Regions from separate parts of the Homo sapiens genome. Here region 2 is linked to region 1. The links come from fine-mapping of genetic effects on gene expression. A gene starts in region 1. The other region holds a variant in brackets. All regions are shown on one strand. Distances are from middle to middle.

Region 1 (2,916 bases):
AAATACAGTGTTATGTTTTACTATAGTTTACTCTCTGACATCGTAGACTGCTTATGCACTAATTCTTCCTGGATACCGGAAGCCAGAGAAAACCTAGCGGTGGAATACTTGCCATTTTTCATGCTTTTTGTCAGTTTCCTTTTTAAGTGCATACTGAGGTTTATCTTCAAAACATTCTCATCTTTTCGGCTTACAGTAAGACTTTTTTTTTTTTCTAACCAAAATGTGTCTGCCTTTCATTAAGATAACATAAAAGAGCAGCCTAATTCTTTGGTCCCTGAATATGCACACACATGCATGCACACACACACACGCAGACACACACACAACACATGGAGGCTCTCTGAAACTGCTTAATCAAATTACTGCTCAAACCACTCCCTGGCACTTCCTTGCAAAACAACCAACCTAATACTGAGTTTTTAGTTTTGCACTACAAGCCGTTTGAAACAGAATAACATTCTTTCCTGGCCACCACTTTTAAATTCGGAAGGAGACAATACTCTGATCTCTTAGGCCTGTGCAAGTCAGAGTGTGCTACAATCGCTGCAGGTTAGAGCTCTGCCTTTGTTTAAAAACTGCATTTTATATACTAGTTACTTCATTGTGAAAGATAACCACCCTGACAAACAAGATTTTGCTATTTTTCTGCACAAATGTCACTTCACCATTTAGAGCTTCATGCAAATGTGTCTCCTACAGAAAATAAACTGCAAACACGATTTCTTAATTATCCTCGCCAAAAAAAAAATGTTTTAGTGGTGTCATAATGCCAGCACTAATTTTAGCCAAAATAAGAACAAATGCATTCTACAAATTCAGGAGATTATAATTTTTAAAAAGCAGTAGTATGGATATACTTAATGTCACTGAATTACACACTTCCAAATGGTTAAATGGTAAACGTTTATGTATTGTATGGTAAATGTTATGTGTTATTTTGGCACAATATTGTTTCCTCACAATAATACTAACAGGTTTTTTAAAAAGCAAGAGCACGCTCTCATTTCGTAATATATATTTATGGATGTCAGTGTGCAGAATTATGCACAGATATTTTAAATGTCAGGAGGCCTGGAGACAGATTTCAGGATTGCGGCTACTTTTACTTTTCTTCTACTTTCCCGTGTTATCTAATTGTCTCTGATAAATACGCTTTATATGCAGAATTGGATGAAACGAGAAAGCCCGGAGAAACCCGGGCTCCAGATTCTCTACCCCGGACGCCTGGGAGGCAAAGAGGTTCTAGATACGCCCTCAGCGTGGCGGGGGCGGGATCCACCGCCAGACCCCCGCCACGGGCGCAGCCTCCAGGCCGGGCCCCGTCCGCCGCCCGGGCAGGCCCGAGAATGCCGCGGACTTCGGGGAGCCCCGCGCCCGCAATGCCGCCACCCCCACCCCCGCGCCCCGCCAGGCCTCTCACCGACTCCCGCCGCCGAGCGACAATCGGTCCACCCGCCGCCACCGCAGCCGCCCGTCCCGCGCCTACCTCCCGGCGGCTCCAGTCGCGCACGCGCGTCGGCGCCCGGGGCCCTCCGCGGCCTCTCTAGGAAACTGGGAGGCCCAACGTCTCTGCTTCTCTCCGGCTCCGGTGCGGCGGGCGGCGGGGCTTGTCCAACATCCCTCACCTCCCTCAGTTGGACATTTCCCTTCCACGCTCGGATGCCCAGCCGCGCCTGTTTTCTTGCATCCCTCCTGTCGTGTCTGCGGGGCTGCCCTGAAGGCCTCTTTCCCTCCAGGGAAGAAAGGGATCCAAAGCTAGGGGTGAAAATAGGGCCAGCAGTATCTAGCAGACTGGTCCTGGCCAGGAGAAGGGGTTAAGGGAGCCACTCATTCTTCGCCTGGGTACACTTCAAAGAGGGGAACCAGATCCTACGGGAAGCTAGGTGCCAGAACTCCTGCCTTTCCAAGACGAGCTCATCCCCATCATCACCATACCCAGGAATACTTGTTCATAGCCAGCTCAGAGGTGCACCATACTTTAGCTTCCCACGGCCTTCACTCGTTTTCTCCTGTGGGTGAATTCTAACTAGGCTCGCCTGGTGAGTGAACAATGATGCCATTGCCCAATAATATGTGGAATCTGGGAGGAGTAGGTTGGGGGTAGGGGGTGGAGGGGCTGCTTGAAGAGGAGGTGAAGCAACCTGGAGAGGTTGCCCACCCCCTGTAGGAGCAAATGTCATCTATTGCCAGTGCCAGAGAACCTTGAGGGTGCACAGCCAAAGCCATAAGGCCATCTGCTGCCATTGGAGGGCATGCTACAAGCTGCTGTCCTGGTAGTCCTCTGGTTTGTGCTTCCTAGTGGCAGGCTGCAACATGTTGACGATTGATCTTTCAGATGGGCATTGATGATGCCCATCTGTGCCCTGAGGCTTTGCTTTACTCATCTGATCCACCCCTTTTTAATGCCCCAGTCACCAAAGATGGAAACAGAGAATAGATCCTGAACACCAGGAAGATGGTGACAAGGTGATAGAGAAACAGATGGCACATTCAAACAAGGTAAGTGGGGAGAGTTCACAAGGGGCGATTTACACAAAGTGGACAGGGTTAAGGAAATGCAACACGGAGTGGTGCAGAATCCCATGGCTAGCAAAATTTAGAAGCTATTCTCACCCCTAGGAGCAGGCCATCTGAGAGAAACTGTGGCTTTCAGTTGAGGGCTACATCCAAGCCATAGTCCAGCACAAAGGAAGCTGAGGTAATAAATAACCTGAACCCAGCTCTCTTCTGATCTCCTGCCAGGGCTTCCCATTGGCCCAACTCAACTGGAAGCCAGAGGGCAATCCAGGAAACTCAGTCTCCCAAGTGTCACAGCAGGGTTGAGGACTGAGACTGAATATGGAGGGGCAATTGGAAAATATCCAACACATACAAAAAGGAAAATAGAAACTGCTTGTCAATGCCTAATTTGTC
Region 2 (2,916 bases), 56 kb after region 1:
TTACAGGCATGAACCACCACGCCCAGTCTAGAAGTTGCTCTTAATTCTCCACCCTCTCACATCTAAAACATCAGCAAGTCCAGTTTATTCTTCTTCCAAAATGCATTGTAAATCCACCCATTTCTTTCCATCTCCACAGCACATCATCCCTAGTCCTGGCCACCATCTTCTCTCAAATGTAGTCCTGCAATGGTGCTCTAACTGGCCTCCTGACACTGAAATTAATCTCCCCCAAGCAACTTCAAATTGGTTAACCTGGCCAACATGGTCTTCCGCAGGCAGGCCTCTGCCCAACTCTGACTGCACCTCTGACACTGTGACTCTCATCCAGGCACAGTGGCCTCCCTTCTGTCACCTGATCAGCCCAATCAGTTACATCTTGAGCCTTTGCAGCAACTTTTCCCACTGCATAGAATGCTCCTTTCTCACACCTTCAGGGGTATAGCAGTCCTTTAAAATTCATCTGTTAGTTTAAATGGCACCCCCTAAGAAAGGAGGGTGAAGTTTTTCAATACTTGTTAATATAGGAGCATAAGAATTACTGTAATTATCTTTCAACCTATTTGTTACCTTTATAAATAAACTTCTTATGACATAGACTACTAACACTAATCTGTGAAATGTTGAATTATGATGAAAACAGAGAACTGAGAGGCTGGGCACGGTGGCTCGTGCCTGTAATCCCAGCACTTTGGGAGGCTGAGGCAGGAGGATTACTTGAGGCCAGAAGTTTGAGACCAGCCTGGGCAACATAGTGAGACCCCTGTCTCTACAAAAAAACAATATAAAAATCAGCTGGACGTGGTGACACACACCTATAGTCCCAGCTACTCAGAAAGCTGAGGAGGGAAGACAGCTTGAGCCCAGGAGGTCAAGGATGCAGTGAGCTATGATCACACCACTTCACTCCAGCCTGGGCGACAGAGTGAGACCCTGTCTCAGAGACAGCGAGAGCAAATGGGGGTAGGGGGGAACACTAAGGATTCTCCTTCAAATAGTCCAATTTATTTCTTTTTTGTTTTTTTGAGACGGAGTCTTGCTCTGTCGCCCTGGCTGGAGTGCAGTGGTGCGATCTCGGCTCACTGCAACCTCCGCCTTCAGCGTTCAAGCAATTCTCCTGCCTCAGCCTCCCAAGTAGCTGGGATTACAGGCGTGCGCCACCACACCCGGCTAAATTTTGTATAAAACAAGTACCATCCACTAGATGGCGCTTCTAGCCTGTTCTATCCTGTTCTTGACTCTTTTCAGGACCCT[G/A]GACAGTGCCTGGTGTACAGCAACCGTTCCGTAACTATTGAATGATTTGTCATAAACTTACATGCACCCTGAACCTATCAGCACAGCTTTAAAATATATAAGGCAAATGGGTCTACAAAAAGAAAGAGACGAGTGTGAAGCCAACCCACACCCCTTAGAAACATACTAGGGAAACCCAAAACAACAAAGAACTTTTTAAATGCAAAAGTAGAATGACTGCTTTTACCCTCTGTATTTCTGAATTATTTTTTCAGGATTAATATGTATTACTTTGATAAATGAGATTAAATTTTTCTTCATGTTCCCTTCTCAAATTGTAAAGTCTTTTACTATGGTTCTAAGGAGCTGGTCAAACCTGTTCAGGGGTGTTAAGTGCACACCAAGATGGAAGGTGACAGGAAGGTGTATAACATTAGGATTATATTTAGGTTTATTCTTTTTTTTTTTTTTAGACGGAGTGTTGCTCTGTCACCCAGGCTGGAGTGCAGTGGCATGATCTCAGCTCACTGCAATCTCCACCTCCCAGGTTCAAGTGATTCTCCTGCCTCGGCCTCCCAAGTAGCTGGGATTATAAGCCTGCACCTCCACGCCCAGCTAATTTTTGTACTTTCAGTAGAGACGAGGTTACACCATGTTGGCCAGGCTGGTCTCAAATGCCTGACCTCAGGTGATCTGCCAACCTTGACCTCCCAAAATGCTGGGATTACAAGTGTGAGCCACCACGCCCAGCCTGTTTAGAGTTATTCTAAAAATCATAACTTCTTGGAATTAAAAAAGTTCTATACATGGCTAGTAACCCCTTCTGCAGCTGAAACTGACTACAAGTCCCCTTCTGTCACCCAGAGTGACCAGAATTGTGTTCTGTGAGGGGCAGGGTTCACTGGATAGCATGAGGTGACGTGCCAGGCTGAATTCTCTCCCTGCAGTGGAGGCTACTCTACAATAAAGTGAAAGGAAGATCTGACCTAATGCCCTGCAGAGCTTCATTTCTCCCACCATCTGGTTTTGTAAGGAAAAAAAGTATGTGCTTCTATGTATTTTTTTTAGCACTACTCCTTAATTTAAATGTCTATTTAAAAAAGACCAAAGCTTAACTGGTTATCTTTGAAATATAATTTCTTTTTATTTTCTTCTTTTACTTCTTTATATTTTCTTATATTTCTACAATCATAAGTACAAATTAGGTGGCAAAGAAATGATATAAAAGAAGCATGGTATCTGCCAAATCAAATTCTCTGGATGAGCTAATGCCCACCCAAGTGGCAAGTTGAGGAAAGGAGGGTGCTGTTGACTTACGGTCCATTTCTAATCTGTCCTGAGCGTTGGTAAGGCCAGGGGCTGGACAGTGGGCTATTGGAGAGGACTCCAGTCTCAGGCCAATGTACTCGGTACTTCCATCAGGAGGGTATGTGGCAGCTGGCCCTTCCATCCACAGTATCTTTTGGGCAGCTATACTGATCACTGTGGGAAAGAGAGTTTCTGCGGTGCCAGCTGAGTTGGTCTTCCCTGTGTGAGACACCCAAGGGGAGCCATGGGCGGCCTCTGAGGAGAAAAGTCTTCTTATTGCCTTCATGTCTTTATGCCCCGACAGCATAACCACTCAGCAGAATTCCACAGTTGCTCAAGGAGGTAACACTCCCTTGAAGCAGTGGAGTATAATCA

The links. PIP is the estimated chance that this variant, and not a neighbour inherited with it, causes the effect.
Region 2: its variant is fine-mapped to the expression of ZNF445 in whole blood (TOPMed, PIP 0.96).

The regions. Positions count from the first base shown.
Region 1 is chr3:44,476,168-44,479,083 of GRCh38, forward strand. It overlaps ZNF445 (zinc finger protein 445), which reads right to left and starts at 1,503. Exons shown (of 8, transcript NM_181489.6): 1 at 1,424-1,503. It overlaps LOC101928529 (a long non-coding RNA gene), which reads left to right and starts at 1,523. Exons shown (of 4, transcript XR_940785.4): 1 at 1,523-2,042; 2 at 2,415-2,502. RefSeq lists silencers at 1,251-1,300, 1,321-1,480.
Region 2 is chr3:44,531,773-44,534,688 of GRCh38, forward strand. No RefSeq gene overlaps it. Among named protein-coding and RNA genes, the nearest start is that of ZKSCAN7, 22 kb to the right of the region's middle. RefSeq lists silencers at 1,085-1,213, 1,105-1,399. The variant G/A (reference allele first, on the strand shown) is at 1,255.